2 separate regions of the Homo sapiens genome follow, and region 2 is linked to region 1. The links come from fine-mapping of genetic effects on gene expression. A gene starts in region 1. The other region holds a variant in brackets. All regions are shown on one strand. Distances are between the middles of the regions.

Region 1 (8,987 bases):
AAAAGACATTTTGGGGACAAATGCAGAAACGTGAATATGAATTCATCATTAGACAGCATTACGGCATCCTGGTTAACTTTGTTAGAGAGAATAATGGTATGCATAATTAATTAGGAAAATCATTTTTTTAAAAAAACAGACATACTGAAGTATCTAAAAGTCTAACTGAAATGTCACAATGTTTATAATTTACTTTAAAATACTTAAGGGGGAAACAATGAGTATATTCTATATATATTTTTTTATTATTCTATTTTCTTTTATGCTTGAAAAATCTCAAAATAAAAAACATTTAAAAAGGGAGACTGATGGAAGGAGAGAATATTCTACCTTGGGGGTTCAAGGTAATTGTGCAGTAAGGAAGTGAAACAAAAAATATCAGTCTAAAATAAATAATGACTGTTTTTGGCTATATTTAGTAGAGAAACTAACATGTAATTTGCCTGCTTTCCTCAGCCTGAGATAATCTGATGTGCTAAATACACTAGCACCCTAATTGGTTTACTGATTCTTTATGCTAACAATAAGACATAAAGAAAAAGAGTTACAAATAAAGGGGAAAACTCAAAGTCTCTGAGTCTTTTAGTCAAGTTGGAAGTAGTAAAGTCATGAAGCTTTCTTTTTCGCTTTTTGTTTTGTTTTGCTTTTTACGGTTTTTGGTATTGCTCTGTTGCCCAGGCTAGAGTGTACTAGTGTGATCACAGCTCACTGCAGCTTCCACCTTCTGGGCTCAGGCGATCCTCCCACCTCAGCTTCCCAAGTAGCTGAGACCAGAGGCATGCACCACAATGCCCAGCTAATTAGCTGTAGAGACAGTCTCCCTATGTTGCCCAGGCTGCTCTCGAACTCCTGGGCTCAAGTGATCCTCCTGCCTTGGCCTCCCAAAGTGCTGGGATTACAGGCATGAGTCACCATGCCCCACTAGGGAGCTTTCTACTGCAGGAGATCTAGACTTATTTTGAACAAAATCATCATAAAACTTTAACTTCTAACAACACACTGTAAGTCAGAAAAATATTTGATGTTAAATATTTAAAAACACATTTCTTAGTTACCTGTTTTGGTTGCCTTTCTAAAACTTGAGCTTTTAACCAGGTTTCGACTTCTTCAATTTTCTTTTTATGCACAGCAAGTTCATGCTACAACAAAAATTTCAAATTTAAAACAAAACTTCTTAACTGAAGATTTTTTGGTACATCAGCACATATGAACCTAAGCATTATTAACGAAAAGAAGTAGCAAATCAGTAACAATCTATATAATAAAATGATCCTTTTGATTATACTTGAATTTTTATACTATTATGGAAAAATTATATTCTTAAGTTGATACCTCTGTATGATAATTTTGGCAAGTTTGCAGTTATAACATTTTTTAAAATTCAGAAATACATTTTGAGAAGACAGTAGAGAGGAGTATTACATTTAGTACAAAAATTTTTAAAAAGATCAATTCTATGTTGGGATTAAATTAAATCTAAGACAACTAATCATACAACTTTAGAATAACTATTGAGAAAAATCTAAGCCTTGGAAAATAAAAAAATCCAGAATTTTTTCTAACACTTAGAAAGATTCTTATGAGTAAAAAATCTGAAAATGTAAATCCCTCTGCTTCCCATCTACCCTTATGCACCCTGAAATTAAATTATGTAGATATGTCTGCATGCTTTTCAGTACCTGAGTTTCTGGTTTATATTTATCCACCCATGGTTCATTTTCAGACAGATATTCTTTTGAATTTTCTAAACCATAAATCTGTTCTAAGGAAGATAGATTTCCTCTTTTTCTCGCTGGAAATCTGCTGCTTTCTAATGTAGAAGGCCCATTTTTTCTTCTATGACTTGAGTTATTCACACCTAATGATGTGGCAGTAATAGTAGAGACGCCACTACACTCTAGAAAATCATCAAATGATGGGTCAACCCAGTCTGTTACCTGAAAAAAAAAGAAATCATGTAAATATAATCACATTTTCTCCCATCTATTCCCCCAAATAACTGAACTACTCTGGAAACAACATATTCATATATTTATAACCTTTAAAACTTAAAAAAAAAAAAAAAAAAAAAAAAAAAAAATTTTTTTGAGACCGGGTCTCACTCTGTCACCCAGGCTGGACTGCAGTGGTATAATCTCAGCTCAAGCAATCCTCCAGCCTCAGCCTCTTGAGTAACTGGGACTACAGGCATGCACCACCATGCCCAACTAATTTTTTTGTATTTTTTGTAGAGATGGGTTTTTGCCATGTTGCCCAGGCTGGTCTCAAACAATTCTTGGGCTCAAGTGATCCTCTCACATCAGCCTCCCAAAGAGCTGGGATTAAAGGTATAAGCCACCATACCCGGCCTAAAAATCTTACAAATTAACTCTTTTTAAATAAAACTCTGTCTGTAATAGTTGTTTTTCTACTTTACAGTAAGTGCAAGTGCATACTTGTCTACTTGACCTTAAAGGAGTAAAGAACACAAACTTATTTTTATTAATTGTAACCTTCCCAGCATAAACACTAGAATGATTTTTTTAAACTCTCTGTAGGATTGAAACATAAATATTAAAATTACCTATTAAAAAAAGCAAAACAAAATAAACAAATGATAATATTTTAACAGAAACAGCAATAAGAGTAATATATCTGCCTTGGCCAGGTTAATACATTCACAAACTAAGAACCATTTCATACATCCAAATAATCCGTATCAGCTTGAAGACTTAGTGAAGATATAGGCCAAAGATCATAACGTAATCTGTAATTATGACTGGATTATATTTTTCTTCAGTGTATGAAGCAACTAATATTTTTATAATTGAGGCAGGCTTTCCAGAGGGGGAACTGTCACTCAGAAATGCCTGGGAATGGTTGGGTGTGGTAGCTCACACCTATAATTCCAGCACATTCAGAGGCAGAGGCAGTAGGATTGCTGAGCCCAGGAGTTTGAGAACAGCTAGCATAACATAGGGAGACCCCAACTCTACAAAAAATAAAAAATTAGCCAGGCATGGTGGCGCACGCCTGTATTCCCAGCTACTTGGGGGGCTAAGGTGGGAGAATCACTTGAGCGCGGGAGGTCAAGGTTGCAGTGAACCATGATCACCCCACTGCACTCCAGCCCGGGCAACAGAGTGAGACCCTGTCTCAAAAAAAAAATTTTGCTAATAATTAGAAATTATTAGCTAATAATTACAAATAATTAGAAATTAGAAATTTTTACTAGATTTTTTAACACTCTAATAGCATAAATCTAGAAAAATATAGCTTCAGATCTGGTTGTAGAATCTACTGCCTGGCTAACAAAAAGAAACCAAGTTATATATTTCTTTCAAGAATACTCAGCCACAGTTGAGCTATTTATTAGACAATGTTCCTCTCTTGAAGAAAATGAACCAGAAGTTGGAGCTGAAAGTAGGCTTAGGGGAGACAATTTGGGGCTTATAAATACTTTACGAATGCTAAGTCACACTTCACTCTTCTTTTAAGACAGAGTTAGGAATATTATCGGCAGTGGATTAAAAAAGGAAGACCACTGGAAAAAATTTTAGTCATAGCTACCTGATTCATTTCGTCCTCATCAAAAGATTGTGACTGGTACTATAATCTTGGCCCCTTTCCTCTATATTTTTGAGAGTATGAAAATATCTTTCATTATAGTAAAACTTTCGACAGCAATTCTGATTTGCAAATTATTTATACATTTTATAGTTTCATTTCTTACATAAATGTGGACTCCCATATACTGAAAAAAAGAGAAAGATAAACAGCAAAGTTAAGTAACTTACTTAACATCAAAGAAAATTTAGAGCTACCACTTAGGGAAATAGCTACCCTGCATGCATGAAACTGTCTGACCCCCATCCCACCTTAACCCCTATCTTGCTGAGAACTCACACACTGAATTACATTACTTCTAAGAAGCAGTGCTTTTGGTTAAGCTATAACACCAACTACCACTCATATTTCTCTCTTCTATGTTCTTTCATTCAAATGTTTTCAGCCTTTGTGACTGGGACTGTAAAACACTTTTTCAAAATTAAGGTTGTGCTTTTAGAGAACACTTGTTTCACAACTTATTACCAGACTTGCTTAAATCATTAATTACAATAGATACTCGGCTCTATTACTTTGATAGCAGTAATAAGTTATTAAGAATATATATAAAAATTTATAATTATTTTAAGGCAATTATTACATGGCCATTCCAGTGTATCATACCTTTGTGGAAGATACCTTTGGTCTAAGAAAAGTTTTTGACATTATAAACTGTAATAGTTCCCATCCGTAGTTTAGGACTTGCAGTACATTAAACTATAATTCACCTGGGGGGGGGGGGGGGAAGAAGCCCTCAAATGAAGAAAAACTGTAAATGCCCAATTATAGTAATAAATGTATACTGATATAATCAACAATACAATAAAGGCTCAAGAACTAGTGAAAAAGAACAGTAAATTTAAGTGATACAAGAAATCAAAATTCTAAAATAATTTTAATGACTATAACTGTATCAAATAATCTACTTGTGGTGTTAAGAGTTTTTCACATGAACTCAATGATGTATTAGAAAAAAAAAAACAAAAAAACCACACATACTATGTACTTACCTTTTGTCATTAAAATCAGGCAATTCTATTTGAGCAATTTTTATACTGAAAATTAAAGTTTTCCTTATTTCAAATTACAGTTGCAGGTCTTCATTTCCAGTATTTCCCAAAAAAGTAAAATACCATGAATTCACTTGCTGTGGACGAAGAATTTAAGTCTTAAACTGTAAAATTTTTGTCTTCATTTGAACATGTTATTACAAAATTTCTTGGTAACACTGTTTTTCAACCGTGTTTTCAAATTCTTAAATGTTTATGCAAACTAGTGAATTCAACGATTTTAAGTTAGCCAGAAGAAAAGTTTAAGGTCTACAAACTTATACATTGGAAAGTATACTGGACTACTTTACAGTTTGGAGGCACACATAGCCTATAAACACCTCGACACACTAGAAAACACATTGTTCAGCCCTCCGCCCCAAATCGTTCACGATTAGAGACTGTGACGTTTCAAAAGGTATACAGGTGGAAAAAAAACACCTATTTGAGTAAATATAGTTTGTAGCTCGAAATAAAAGATGCAGACCAGGGGCCGGACGCGGTGGCTCATGCCTGTAATCCCAGCACCGTGGGAGGACGAGGCGGGCGGATCATCTGAGGTCAGGAGTTTGAGACCAGCCTGGCCAAAACATGGTGAAACCCCGTCTCTATTAAAAATGCAAAAATTAGCCGGGCGTGGTGGTGGGCGCCTGTAATCCCAGCTACTCTGGAGGCTAAGGCAGGAGAATCACTTGAACCCAGGAGGCGGAGGTTGCACTCCAGCCTGGGCGACAAGAGTGAGACTCCGTCTCAAAACAAAACAAAAACAAACAAACAAACAAAAAAAGGTGCAGACTGTTGTCACGGTCAGGTCTCTATTCACTCTTGAAAACAAGATTGACAATTACCTCCTTTAAAAAGCAGATAACTGTCCCTGAAGATGCGAGGTTACTGAAATGAGATGTCAGAGGTAGACCTTCAAGACTATTCCTAGCCGACCCACCACCACCCCACACAGTGAACAGGGAATACTAAGCTCAAATATTCGTCCAACGTAATCCTGTAATCAGTGGGGTGCCGGGTTGAGCTCGCAAATCCCCGCTGCAGGACAGGGCTCTGCACCCTCAATCTTCTCATCCCCAGATGGGATGGGCGGGTCGGGAGGAGGAGCGACGAGAGCCCAGGAAAGCTTGAAGGCAGAGATAGACTCACGTCTCTAAGACATATACATAATATAGCCGCAACCGCGGCGGCCTTACTTTCCCGGAGCTGCATCCCCTTTTAGGCGAAGAGCGGAGGCGACCAGGGACTACCCTAGGTGAAAGGGCAGCCACCTGGCCCTACCCGGGCTCAACGCCGAGCCTCTCGGAGGTACGGCCTCCCGGGGACCTTCCAGACTGGTCGGCGCAAGCGAAGGGCGGGGACCACCGAAGGAGTGTGTGACTTAGGCATCCAGCGCACTGCCTGACCCGAAGTACCGACCCGAGTTATGCCCACCCTCCAACTTTGCGACGGAAATGTGTCATCGAAAGCCAGGTAACCAGTGGGCCGCGGCTGGGCCGCCGGGGCAGGCTAGGGGCGCCGCGGTGGGCTTCGGGGCCTTTGGGGCCGTGGGCTTTTGCTGCCGCCCGCCCCTTCCGGCTCCTCCCTGTAGAGCAAAGGGCACGTGAGCGAGGCGCCCGAAGCCGTCGCGGCGGGGACCATGTTGCTTCCGAACATCCTGCTCACCGGTCAGGGCGCGCGGCCGGGAGGGACTGGGCTGGGGCAGGCTGGGGGCGCAGAGTGCTCTGGGCATCGGGCGCCCAGGTGGGGGCCCCTCACTGCCCTCTTCAGAGGCCGGCCGAGGGCCACGAGGCGGTTGTCAGCGCCCCGGGAGCCGACCCTCGCGGGCGTTGCGGGAGGCGAGGGAGGGGACGCGGAACGTTAATTCCGTTGGCCTGAGGCTCCGGGGGGGGGCGGGGGGGGGTGGAGAGAGGTCGGCAGATCCAGCTCTCCAGCTTGGCAACCTGCTTAGTCTTTCTGAATCTGGTATTTCGTTTGTAAAATGGGTTGTTGATTCTTTGGCAGGGTTGGCCTTGGGATTTTTAGCGAAATAACGTAAGGCCATATCTGCTTCCCGGTAGAGTCATTAATGGTGGATGCCTCACTCCTTAGGCCTCCGTGGGCCGTATTTTATTTTTTCTTTGCTTCTGATAAACGCCTCAGATTAGATTTCGGTAAACGAGTTCAGATGTTTGTGACGTGACGAAATTGCTGTATGCTTTTGTTGAGTTACATCAAAGGATCCCCCCGCCCCTTAAAAGGAAGGCATATAGAGCATTTCGGGTCGTTTCTCGCGTAGGAGTGGGTCTTTGAAGCCATACTCAGGGTGCATGTTATCAGTGAAGGGAATTAAAATGCTGCATAACGACTTTAACGAATATTTTTGCTAGCCGTTTAGTCCTGAAAGTGTTTATCAAATTGTAGGCCATTCGTGGAAAAATCTAATGCATGTAGATTTTATTGCAAGGTACAGAAAAATTAAGACTCTTTGTGGGAACAGTAAAGTTACATCATTCACCCAAAGGTAAAATTGTTGGCAGCGCACAAGACATGTCTGTTTCTGAGAGGTGCAGATTAACCACCCCACAAATAACGTTTAGAATTTTAGATTCCTTAAGCGGAAGATTTTACATCTTTTTGCATGGATCAAACATAGTGCCCTGGTTATTAAGTCATTGTCAAAACTTTAAAGTGAACATTTTATTGAAAACATGTTGAGTCCAGGGTTCAGACTTGGTGTATTATAGTGGACTTGAGGTGACCGTTATTCTCCTGGGTATGGGAACTGGATTATCCCTGTTATCTTTATGCTTAAGTTTAATTTCAGGGATGTTAAATCTGAATAGCTGAAAATTATGAATTTGATGATCTTGAAATGTAATTTTAATAGGTATCAGAAGGGGAAGGTAAAGAACAATGTATATAGTATTGTCATTTATGTAAAAGGGAATATGTGTTGTATTTATATAACAAAGAGTATGTACATATATGTACATTTACATGCAAACATAAATAGGGTTTCTTTGGGAAAGGAAACTGGTTTACAGTGGTTATCTCTAGGGAAGGGCGCAAGGGGTCAGTAGAGGTAATTTTCAGACTGCTTAATTTTAACATGAACAGTTTTGTTTTTGTTCTTGTTTTTGTTTTTGTTTGAGACAGAGTCTCATTATGTTGGCCAGGCTGGTCTCGAACTCCTGCGCTTAAGCGATCCTCCCGCCTTCTCCTCCCAAATTGCTGGGATTACACGCGCGAGCCACCACACGTGGCCATGAACAGTTTTTAAATCTTTATAAGTTAAAGCAAATAGGCCAGGTGGGTGGCTCATGCCTGTAAATCCCAGCACTTTGGGAGGTGGAGGTGGGGAGATCGCTTGAGCTCAGGAGTTTGAGCTTAGCCTAAGCAACATAGCCAAACCCCGTCTCTACAAAAATTAACCAGGGCATGGTGGTGCATACCTGTGGTCCTAGCTACCGGACAGGCTGAGATGGGAGGATTGCTTGAGCCCAGGAGGTAAAGGCTCTAGTGAGCCAAGTTCCACTGCACTCCAGCCTAGGTAACAAAGAGATATCTTGTCTTTAAAAAAAGAAAAAGGTAAATAAATTATTGTAATTGATTCGAGGTGGCTAATTTTTTTTTTTTTTTTTTTGAGATGGAGTCTCTGTCGCCAGGCTGGAGTGCTGTGGCGCGATCTTGGCTCACTGCATCCTACAACTACCTGGTTCAAGGGATTCTCCTGCCTCAGCCTCCTGAGTAGCTGGGATTACAGGCACGCGCCACCACGCCCGGCTAATTTTTGTATTTTAATAGAGATGTAGTTTCACTATGTTGGCCAGGATTGTCTCAATCTCCTGACCTTGTGATCTGCCCGCCTCGGCCTCCCAAAGTGCGGTGATTACAGGCATGAGCCACTGCGCCCAGCACGAGATGGCTAATTTTATTCTCAGCAGTTCCCCGGTAGCAGCAGGCAGTTTGAATTGGCGTCAGAATCTGCTGAGCCCCACCCCTGGAGAATCAATACACTGGGTAATATTCTGACATTCAGTTAGCTTTGGAAAATTTTTATTAGATCGTAGTACATGCTAATTTACATATGGCCAGGCATGGTGGCTCACGCCTGTAATCCCAGCACTTTAGGAGGCCGAGGCTGGCAGATCACCTGAGGTTAGGAGTTTGAGACCAGCCTGGCCAATATGGTGAAACCCGGTCTCTACTGAAAATACAAAAATTAGCTGGGTATGGTGGTGGGCACCTGTAATTCCAGCTACTGAGGAGACTGAGGCAGGAGAATCGCTTGAACCTGGGAGGTGGAGGTTGCAGTGAGCCAAGATTGTGCCACTGCACTCCAGCCTGGGCGACAAGAGTGAAACTCTG
Region 2 (8,987 bases), 28 kb before region 1:
AAAAAAATACATATCCTGAATCCAATAATGAGGAATCACCAGACAAACCCAAATTGAGGGATCGTACAGTAACTGTCCTATATCCCTCTAAAATGTCATGGACAAAGAAAGACTACAAAACTGTTCCAGATCAAGGGAGACTAAAAACACACGGAAACTAAATCACTAAATGCATCAGGTTATCTTTCATTGGATTCTGGACAAGAAATGGGGAGTTATCATTTTACAAAGGAGATTATTAGGGCTGGGTGCAGTGGCCTGTGCCTATAATCCTAGCCCTTTGGGAGGCTGAGGCAAGAGGATTGCTTGAGGCCAGCAGTTCAAGACCAACCTGGCCAACAAAGCGAGATCCCATCTCTATTAATTAAAAATAATTAAAAAAGGATATTATTAGGACAATTGGAAAAATTTGAATGGGGACTATAAAATAAACGGTATTAAGTTAATTTCCTGATTTGATTGCACACTGTGGTTATGCAGGAAAATGTCCTTGTTTTTGGCAAGTGCAGACTTAAGTTTTTAAGAATAATGGGATATCATGCCTGCAATTTACTCAAGACTAGTTTAGCAAAATAATACATATATGTGCATGCTTATAAAGAGAGAGAATATAATCAGGCAAATATGGTAAAAAATGTAATAATCAGGAAACTTAGTGAAGGATATACAAGAATTTTTTGTACTATTCTTGCATCCTTACATTTAAAATAATTTTTTTTTTTTTTTGAGACAGAGTCTCACTCTGTCTCCCAGGCTGGAGTGCAGTGGCGTGATCTCAGCTCACTGCAAGCTCCGCCTCCCGGGTTCATACCATTCTCCTGCCTCAGCCCACTGAGTAGCTGGGACTACAGGCACCTGCCACCGTGCCCGGCTGATTTTTTATATTTTTAGTAGAGACGGGGTTAGCCAGGATGGTCTTGATCTCCTGACCTCGTGATCCGCCCGCCTCGGCCTCCCAAAGTGTTGGGATTACAGGCGTGAACCACTGCGCCCAGCCTGAAATAATTTCAAAATAAAGTTTAAAAACCAGTGGCCGGGCGCGGTGGCTCACGCCTGTAATTCCGCACTTTGGGAGTCCGAGGTGGGCAGATCACTTAAGGCCAGGAGTTCGAGATCAGCCTGGCCAACATGGTGACACCCCACCTCTACTAAAAATACAAAAAAAATTAGCCGGGTGTTGTGGCACATGCCTGTAATCCCAGCTACTTTGGAGGCTGAGGCAGGAGAATCGCTTGAACCTGGGAGGCAGAGGTTGCAGTAAGTCGAGATCATGCCATTGCACTCCAGCCTCAGCAACAAGAGTGAAACTCCATCTCAAAAAAAAAAACAAAAAGTTTAAAAACTAGTGTAATCTTTTTTTTTTTTTTTTTTTTTTTTGAGACAGAGTCTTGCTCTGTTGCCCAGGCTGGAGGGCAGTGGTGCAATCTCGGCTCACTGCAAGCTCCGCCTCCCAGGTTCATGCCATTCTCCCGCCTCAGCCTCCCAAGTAGCTGGGACTACAGGCACCCACCACCAGGCCTGGTTTTTTTGTTTTTTGTGGGTTTTTTTTGTATTTTTAGTAGAGATGGGGTTTCACCATGTTAGCCAGGATGGTCTCGATCTCCTGACCTTGTGATCCGCCCGTCTTGGCCTCCCAAAGTGCTGGGATTACAGGCATGAGCCACTGCACCCGGCCAAAAACTAGTGTACTCTTAAAGCAATTGGCAAGGAGAAGGGCAATCTCTGGATTCTGATCAACAGATTAATCATGACCACTGCCCAAAAGTTATCCCATTTTTGCCTATGAATGCATAACATTTTCAAAACTTGTGCAGATGTATACTGCCACAGGCATAGTAATGTTTGTAGCATTATAATTTCGTAACAGAAATATAATGAAAAATACTATTAATAGGCATTTTTGTAATACTGAAATCCACCAAAATATCCATCATAAGGTTAAATAAAATGTTTACAAATTGGAAAAAAATGAGATTGCTGCTCTGACATTAACTTATAAGATATGAAAGGCTATCCACAGTAAGTGACATAAGCAAATTAAAGCTTGCCTCATTCTGCATGTTTCTACATCCACAGAAGAGTATCTGGAAGAATTTACATTAATCTGTCAAAGCAACCTGTGGTTGTAGGGGAAGTACTTTCAATTTTTACTTTAGAAACTTTTTTCTTTTTTCTGAGACAGTCTTGCTCTGTCGCCCAGGCTGGAGTGCAATGGCCTGATCTTGGCTCACTGCAACCTCCGCCTCCGGGGTTGAAGGTTCTCCTGCCTCAGCCTCCCGAGTGGCTGGGATTACAGACGCGTGCCACCACGCCTGGCTAATTTTTTGTATTTTTAGTAGAAATGGGGTTTCCCAGCCTTGGCCTCCCAAAGTGCTGGGATTACAGGCATAAGCCACCACGTTCGGCTCTTTATATATTTCTGTATCATCTGATGCTTTTTGTTTTTTTGAGACAGACCTCACTTTGTCACCCAGCCTGGAGTGCAGGTGTGCGATCTTGGCTCACTGCAGCCTCCACCTCCTGGGTTCAAGTGATTCTCCTGCCTCAGCCTCCCGAGTAGCTGGGATTACAAGCGCATGCCACCACACCTGGCTAATTTTTTTATTTTTAGTAGAGACAGGGTTTCACCATGTTGGCCAGGCTGGTCTCGAACTCCTAACCTCCAGTGATCTCCCTGTCTTGACCTTCCAAAGTGCTGAGATTACAGGCATGAGCCACTGCACCTGGCCTGTTTGATGCGTTTTAAAAAAAAAACATAAAGGATCCAGAATTATCTGGATCAAAAAATAAAAGGAAAAAAAGTATCTCACTGCATATAGCAATAAATTGGCCCACAAAAAGATATTGCTATAAAACCCTACTTCTGGCCGTGTGCGGTGGCTCACACCTGTAATCCCAGCACTCTGGGGGGCCGAGGCAGGCAGATCACAAGGTCAGGAGATCGAGACCATCCTGGCTAATACAGTGAAACCCCATCTCTACTAAAAATACAAAAATTAGCCAGGTGTGGGGGCGCGTGCCTGTGGTCCCAGCTACTCAGAAGGCTGAGGGAACAGAATTGCTTGAACCCAGGAGGCAGAGGTTGCAGTGAGCCGAGATCGTGCCACCGCAATCCAGCCTGGACAGTAGAGACTCCCCCTAAAAAAATAAAATAAATAAATAAATAAATAAACCCTACTTCTTAAAAGAAAAGAAAAACCTATGTTATTACCTTGATTTCTCATTGGAATGGTTAGTAGAGCAAGGTATGGCAATAGCTGAGTTTGG[A/C]GGCATAAAGCTGGTAGGCAGAAGTCAGGAAAAAGTGCTTTTGCTGCCAGGCAATTTTCCCGATACTGTATAGAAAAGAAAAAAAAAAGATGAAAGGAAAAATGAAATTAAAAATATGTATTCCTAGACAAACTAAGTTTATTATATAAACTTACACAATAAGTTTATATTAACTTGTGGGTTTATATATCACAAATATACTTTTAATAGCTTATTTAAGTAGTCCTTTATAGTTTTTTTAGCATCGTTTAATAAAGTATTTTACCTACACAACTATTCCACATTTAATAAACAACAATTTTTAAAAGACATTGAATGTATAAGAAAACCAAATTTAAAACTCAAAGGAATTGTTTATGAGCACACACACATCATAAATTACACGAAAATAGTTTTCAATGAAATAATTTGTTTTCTTTAGTCAACACGTTATGCTGAGCAAGAGAAAAGCACAATCCCTGCCTTCAAGAAGCTAACAGTCTTAGATAATTTATATGCAGCAACAATGCAAAATTAATATATATGCTATAAAAGACAAAGCAAGTCAATGAGATATAAATTGCTTAAAAGTCATTAAATTCTCCAAGAAATCTGTTGGAAAAAATGTCCTAGGTAATAAATTATAGGGTAATTTTCAGCTGTATGATTTTAGAACTGGAAGACATCTCAGAGACGACCCAGTCCAGGGGTCACGAATTCAGATATTACAGAAGTCAAGCAGGCAATATAAGTGAATGAACCAGCTGGGGACAGTGGTGCCTACTACTCTCATCTCAAAGGGGCAGATGCTACATGGCGAGGTGATTGTTGCTACGCAGAAATATGAGCCAGTGTTATACTTCACTTTCATTTTTTTGAGAGATGGGGGTCTCACTCTGTTGCCCAGGCTGGAGTGCAGTGGCACAATCATTGTTCACTGCAAACTCTGCCTCCCAGGCTTATGCAATCCTCCCAATTCAGCCTCCCAAGTAGCTGGGACTAGGTAGGAAAAACAAAAAAAATTTTTCCTTTTTCCTGTAGATATGGGATCTCACTATATTGCTGGTCTCAAATTCCTGGTGTTTGCCACCACACCCAGCTAATTTTTTTATTATTTTTTTTTTTATACAGATGGGGTTTCACCATATTGCCCAGGCAGGTCTCAAACTCCTGGGCTCTAGTGATCCTTCCACCTCAGCTTTCCAAAGTGCTCGGATTACAGGTGTGAGCCACTGCACCTGGCCTCTTTTTTTTTTTTTTTTTTTTAACCAGGAGATTCCAGAAATTCTGAAGCTAGAAATTCATATCTAACTTTTTTTTTTTCTTTCTGAGACAGAGTCTTTTTCTGTCGCCTAGGCTGGAGTGCAGTGGCATGATCTCGGCTCACTGCAACTTCTGCCTCCCGGGTTCACGCGATTCTCCTGCTTCGGCCTCCTGAGTAGCTGGGATTACAGGAGCGCACCACCACACCTGGCAAACTTTTGTATTTTTAGTAGCGATGGGGTTTCACCATGTTAGTCAGGCTGGTCTCGAACTCCTGACCTTGTGTTCTGCCCGCCTCAGCCTCCCAAAAGTGCTGGGATTACAGGTGTGAGTCACAGCGCCCAGCCGAAATTCATATCTGACTTTTAATCATTAGTCTGATTTTTAAAGATTGGCAATTCATTTTGAAAACTGTTGTGTATTTTGTTTTCAACTTGTGTGCCTCCCATTTTTTACCTCTAAATAATTCAATCATCTACATTTTTAGCTGTGGAGAGTAAGAACACATTAGGTGAATACCTTGTCCATATAGAGGCAAGGCCAAGATTTCTTCTCCTTTCTTTGATTAATTTAAATTGACAAATAAGCTCTGTATGTATTTATAGGTATACAACATGATGTTCTGAAATATGTATATATGGTAGAATGGCTAAATTGAGCCAATTAACATATGCATTACCTTACATACATATATTTTTTGTGTGTGGTGAGAACACTTAAAATCTACCGTTTTAGTGATTTTCTTTTTTTTTTTTTAGATGGAGTCTCGCTCTGTCTCTCAGGCTGGAGTGCAGTGGCGCCATGTCAGCTCACTGCAAGCTCCGCCTCCTGGGTTCACGCCATTCTCCTGCCTCAGCCTCCAGAGTAGTTGGGACTACAGGCGCACGCCGCCACACCCGGCTAAGTTTTTTTATTTTTAGTACAGACAGGGTTTCATCGTGTTAGCCAGGATGGTCTCCATCTCCTGACCTCGTGATCTGCCCGCCTCAGCCTCCCAAAGTGCTGGGATTACAGGCGTGAGCCACCATGCCCGGCCATGATTTTCAAATACATGACACATTGTTGTTAATAGTCACCATGTTATACAACATATCTCTTGAACTTAAAACTTATTCCTCCTGGCCAGCGAGGCTCCGTCTCAAAAACCAAAAACAAAAAAAACTTATTCCTCCTGCCTAACTGAAATTTTATATACTAGGGATTTCTATTTTCCAATCAGCATTCTCAGGTTGAACTAGGGTTTATTTATTTACAATTTTTTTCTTTTTCTTGTAGATATGGGATCTCACTATGTTGACCAGGCTGGTCTCAAACTCCTGGGCTCAAGTGATCCTCTTGTTTTGGCCTTCCACAGTGCTGGGATTACAGGTGTGAGCCACCATGCCTGGCCCTAAAGTTTGTTTTTAATTGAAACTGAAATATAACTATGCAGCTGGGCACAGTGGCTCATGCCTGTAATCCCAGCACTTTGAGAGGCCAAGGCGGGCAGATCACTTAAGGTCAGGAGTTCAAGAACAGCCTGGCCAACATGGCAAAACCCCATCTCTACTAAAAATACAAAAATTAGCTGGGCATGGAGGTAGATGCCTGTAATCCCAGCTACTCAGGAGGCTGAGGTGGGAGAATTGCTTGAACCTAGGAGGTAGAGGTTGCAGTGAGCAGAGATGGCACCACTGCACTCCAGCCTAGGCAAGAGAACGACTCTGTCTGAATAAAAATAAAAAATAAAAAATAAAATATGGCCGAGCATGGTGTCTCACATTTGTAATCCCAGCACTTTGAGAGGCCAAGGCAAGAGGATCATGAGGTCCAAAGATCGAGACCAACCTGGCCAACATGGTGAAACCCTGTCTCTACTAAAAATACAAAAAATTAGCCAGGCGTGGTGGCTGGCGCCTGTAATCCCAGCTACCTGGGAGGCTGAGGCAGGAGAACTGCTTGAACCCGGGAGGCGGAGGTTGCAGTGAGCCGAGATCATGCCATTGCATTCCAGCCTGGGCAAAAAGAGCGAAACTCCGTCTCAAAAAATAAAAAAATAAAAAATAAAATAAAATGTAACTACGCTTTGATTCCAATAAAACTGAACTAATATTTTCAAATTGTGATGGTCTTTTTTCCCTTAAAAAATTGTACAAGCATTTAAGAGTCACCTTTTTATGTTTTATAAAAACTCAGAATCTAATTGTGGACCTTAGCAACTATTTTATTAAAAATGAAATATTTTTTCCTTTGTTATGTTTTAAAGAAAATAACTGCTTTGAGTTATAATTCACGTACCATAAAGTTCACATATTGAAAGTACAGAATTTTTTTTTTTTTTTTTACCTTTTTATTTATTAGAAACCACTGAGGTTTGTGCAAGGGTCGAAAACTTGATCCTCCTCCTTGGCAATGAGCATATCCTCGGGCTTTGTTGGAATGCATCACACCTCTCGTAGCTATAGATGTGCTATATTCCCTGAGTAAAGAGCGTGTCTAACAAATGAGACAAGATGTGAAAGAAAATAGATTTATAAAAGAGCATTACTGGTATTCCTGATATATACAAAAATACTAACCGTATTTAGTTTCTATGTGTTCACTTTCTTCAACATCACTACAGCCCTATAAATAACAGCACTATAAACTTATCTAAAGCAAATTCCACTGGGACATAGCCATCAAATTAAATGTGTAAACCCTGACTGGATCTTGGACAGGGGTGGAGGAAACAACTTTGAATACATTTTTGAGGCAAATGAGGAAATCTGAATAGGGACAATATATTGCTAGATTAGTGTGAAGTTTCTCTGGAAAGTTAACTTAATTATATAACTAATTAGTTAATGTAACTAATTAGTTAATATAACTAAAATATAATTGAAACTAAAATATGACTATGCAGCTGGGCGCAGTGGCTCACGCCTGTAATCCCAGCACTTTGAGAGGCCAGTTATATCAACTAGTTATATTTTAGTTTCAATGGGGTATGATAATGCTATGGTAGTTGTAATAGAACAATGTCCTTATGCTGCTTAAGTGTCACGATGTTCGCAATTACTAATACTTTCCAATTATTCAGCCAGAAACAAATACGTAAATATATAGAGAGATTAAGAAAAAGTGGCAAAATATGCAAACTGCTAAACAAAAGTTAAGGATATGCAGCTATTCATTGTACTATCATTTTTTTTTAATTTTTAATTTGTGTGGGTACTTAGTAGCTGTATATATTTATGAGGTACAGGGGTCATTTTGATACCAGCATACAATGTGTAATAATTACCTCAAGTTAAATGGGGTATCCATTACCTCAAGCATTTATCCTTGGTGTCACAAACAAGTCAATTATACTCTTTTCGTTATTTTGTATTATTATTTAAAATAGGGTCTCAGTCTGTTGCCCAGCCTGGAATGTGGTGGCACGATCACAGCTCACTACCACCTCAAACTCCTGGGCTCAAGTGATTCTCCCACCACAGCCTCCCAAGTAGCTACGACTACAGGTGCATGCCACCATACCCAGCTAATTTTTAAAATCTCTTCTAGAGATGGGGTCTCGCTGTGTTTCCCAGGCTGTTCTCAAACTTCTGGCCTCAAGTGATCTTCCTGCCTTGGACTCCCAAAGTGCAGAATTACTGGCAGGAACCACCACTCCTGGCTCATTGTACTATCCTTTTAATTTATTTATAGGATGGAAAATTTCAAAATAAGAAAGAAACAATTATTTTAAAAGTTAAGCAAATTCAACTGCTGAGTAATGAAGCTCTATAACATAAATGGTTTTTCTGTGTCTTTCCTAATTTTACTTATTACTGCTATTTCAATTTTTTAATTTTTTGAGACAAGGTCCAGCTCTATTGCCCAGGCTGGAGTGCAGTGGTGTGATCTCAGCTCACTGCAACCTCTGCCTCCCAGGCTCAAGCCATCCTCCCACCTCAGCCTCCTGAGTAGCTGGGACCACTACACCCAAACAATTTTCTTGGTATTTTTTTGTAGAGATGGGGTTTCATCACATTGCCCCAGCTGGTCTCATACTCATGAGCTCAAGTGATCCACCTGCCTCGGCCTCCTTAAGTGCTGGGTTTACAGGTGTGACCCACTGAGCCCGGCCTTATTTTAATATTTATAGCACACAGAAATATTAACGTATCAAAATAGTGTCGTCCAACAGAACGCCCTGCAATGATGGAAATGTTTTGTATCTGGGCTGTTCAATAAAGTAGCCATCAGCCACATGCAGTTATCAAGTACTGGAGATGTGGCTAGTATGACTGAGGAACTGAATTTTTAAATTTAAATGTAAATAGCTACATGTGGTTGGTGGCTGTTGTACTGGTAAGGGCAGTGTTAAGATGTTAAGAACAAAATACAAATTTTATGGTAAATAGTTTCAAATATGTAAAAGAAATAAATTTTAAAAACTAGCAGAAAGTGTAGCAACATGTACAGTTCTTTCTCTTGTATCTACTTCTTAATGGTTGTCATATTTTGAGTAT

Direction of the effects. Alleles are on the strand shown, and positions count from the first base shown. SD is a standard deviation of normalised expression in the study named.
As copies of C replace A in region 2, the expression in skeletal muscle of the gene that starts at base 5,949 in region 1 goes down (moderate effect, 0.66 SD a copy in FUSION).

Evidence for each region. PIP is the estimated chance that this variant, and not a neighbour inherited with it, causes the effect.
Region 2: its variant is fine-mapped to the expression of RAD17 in skeletal muscle (FUSION, PIP 0.95).

The regions. Positions count from the first base shown.
Region 1 is chr5:69,366,780-69,375,766 of GRCh38, reverse strand. RAD17 (RAD17 checkpoint clamp loader component) reads right to left here and starts at 5,949. Exons shown (of 19, transcript NM_133338.3): 1 at 5,834-5,949; 2 at 4,596-4,732; 3 at 4,210-4,313; 4 at 3,550-3,733; 5 at 1,680-1,937; 6 at 1,056-1,139. The coding sequence starts at 3,558. It overlaps AK6 (adenylate kinase 6), which reads left to right and starts at 6,247. Exons shown (of 5, transcript NM_016283.5): 1 at 6,247-6,304. The coding sequence starts at 6,277. TAF9 (TATA-box binding protein associated factor 9) reads left to right here and starts at 6,247. Exons shown (of 3, transcript NM_003187.5): 1 at 6,247-6,304. RefSeq lists an enhancer at 5,146-5,695.
Region 2 is chr5:69,394,394-69,403,380 of GRCh38, reverse strand. It overlaps RAD17 (RAD17 checkpoint clamp loader component), which reads right to left. Exons shown (of 19, transcript NM_133338.3): 16 at 6,835-6,984; 17 at 3,212-3,332. Among named protein-coding and RNA genes, the nearest start is that of MARVELD2, 16 kb to the left of the region's middle. The variant A/C (reference allele first, on the strand shown) is at 3,268.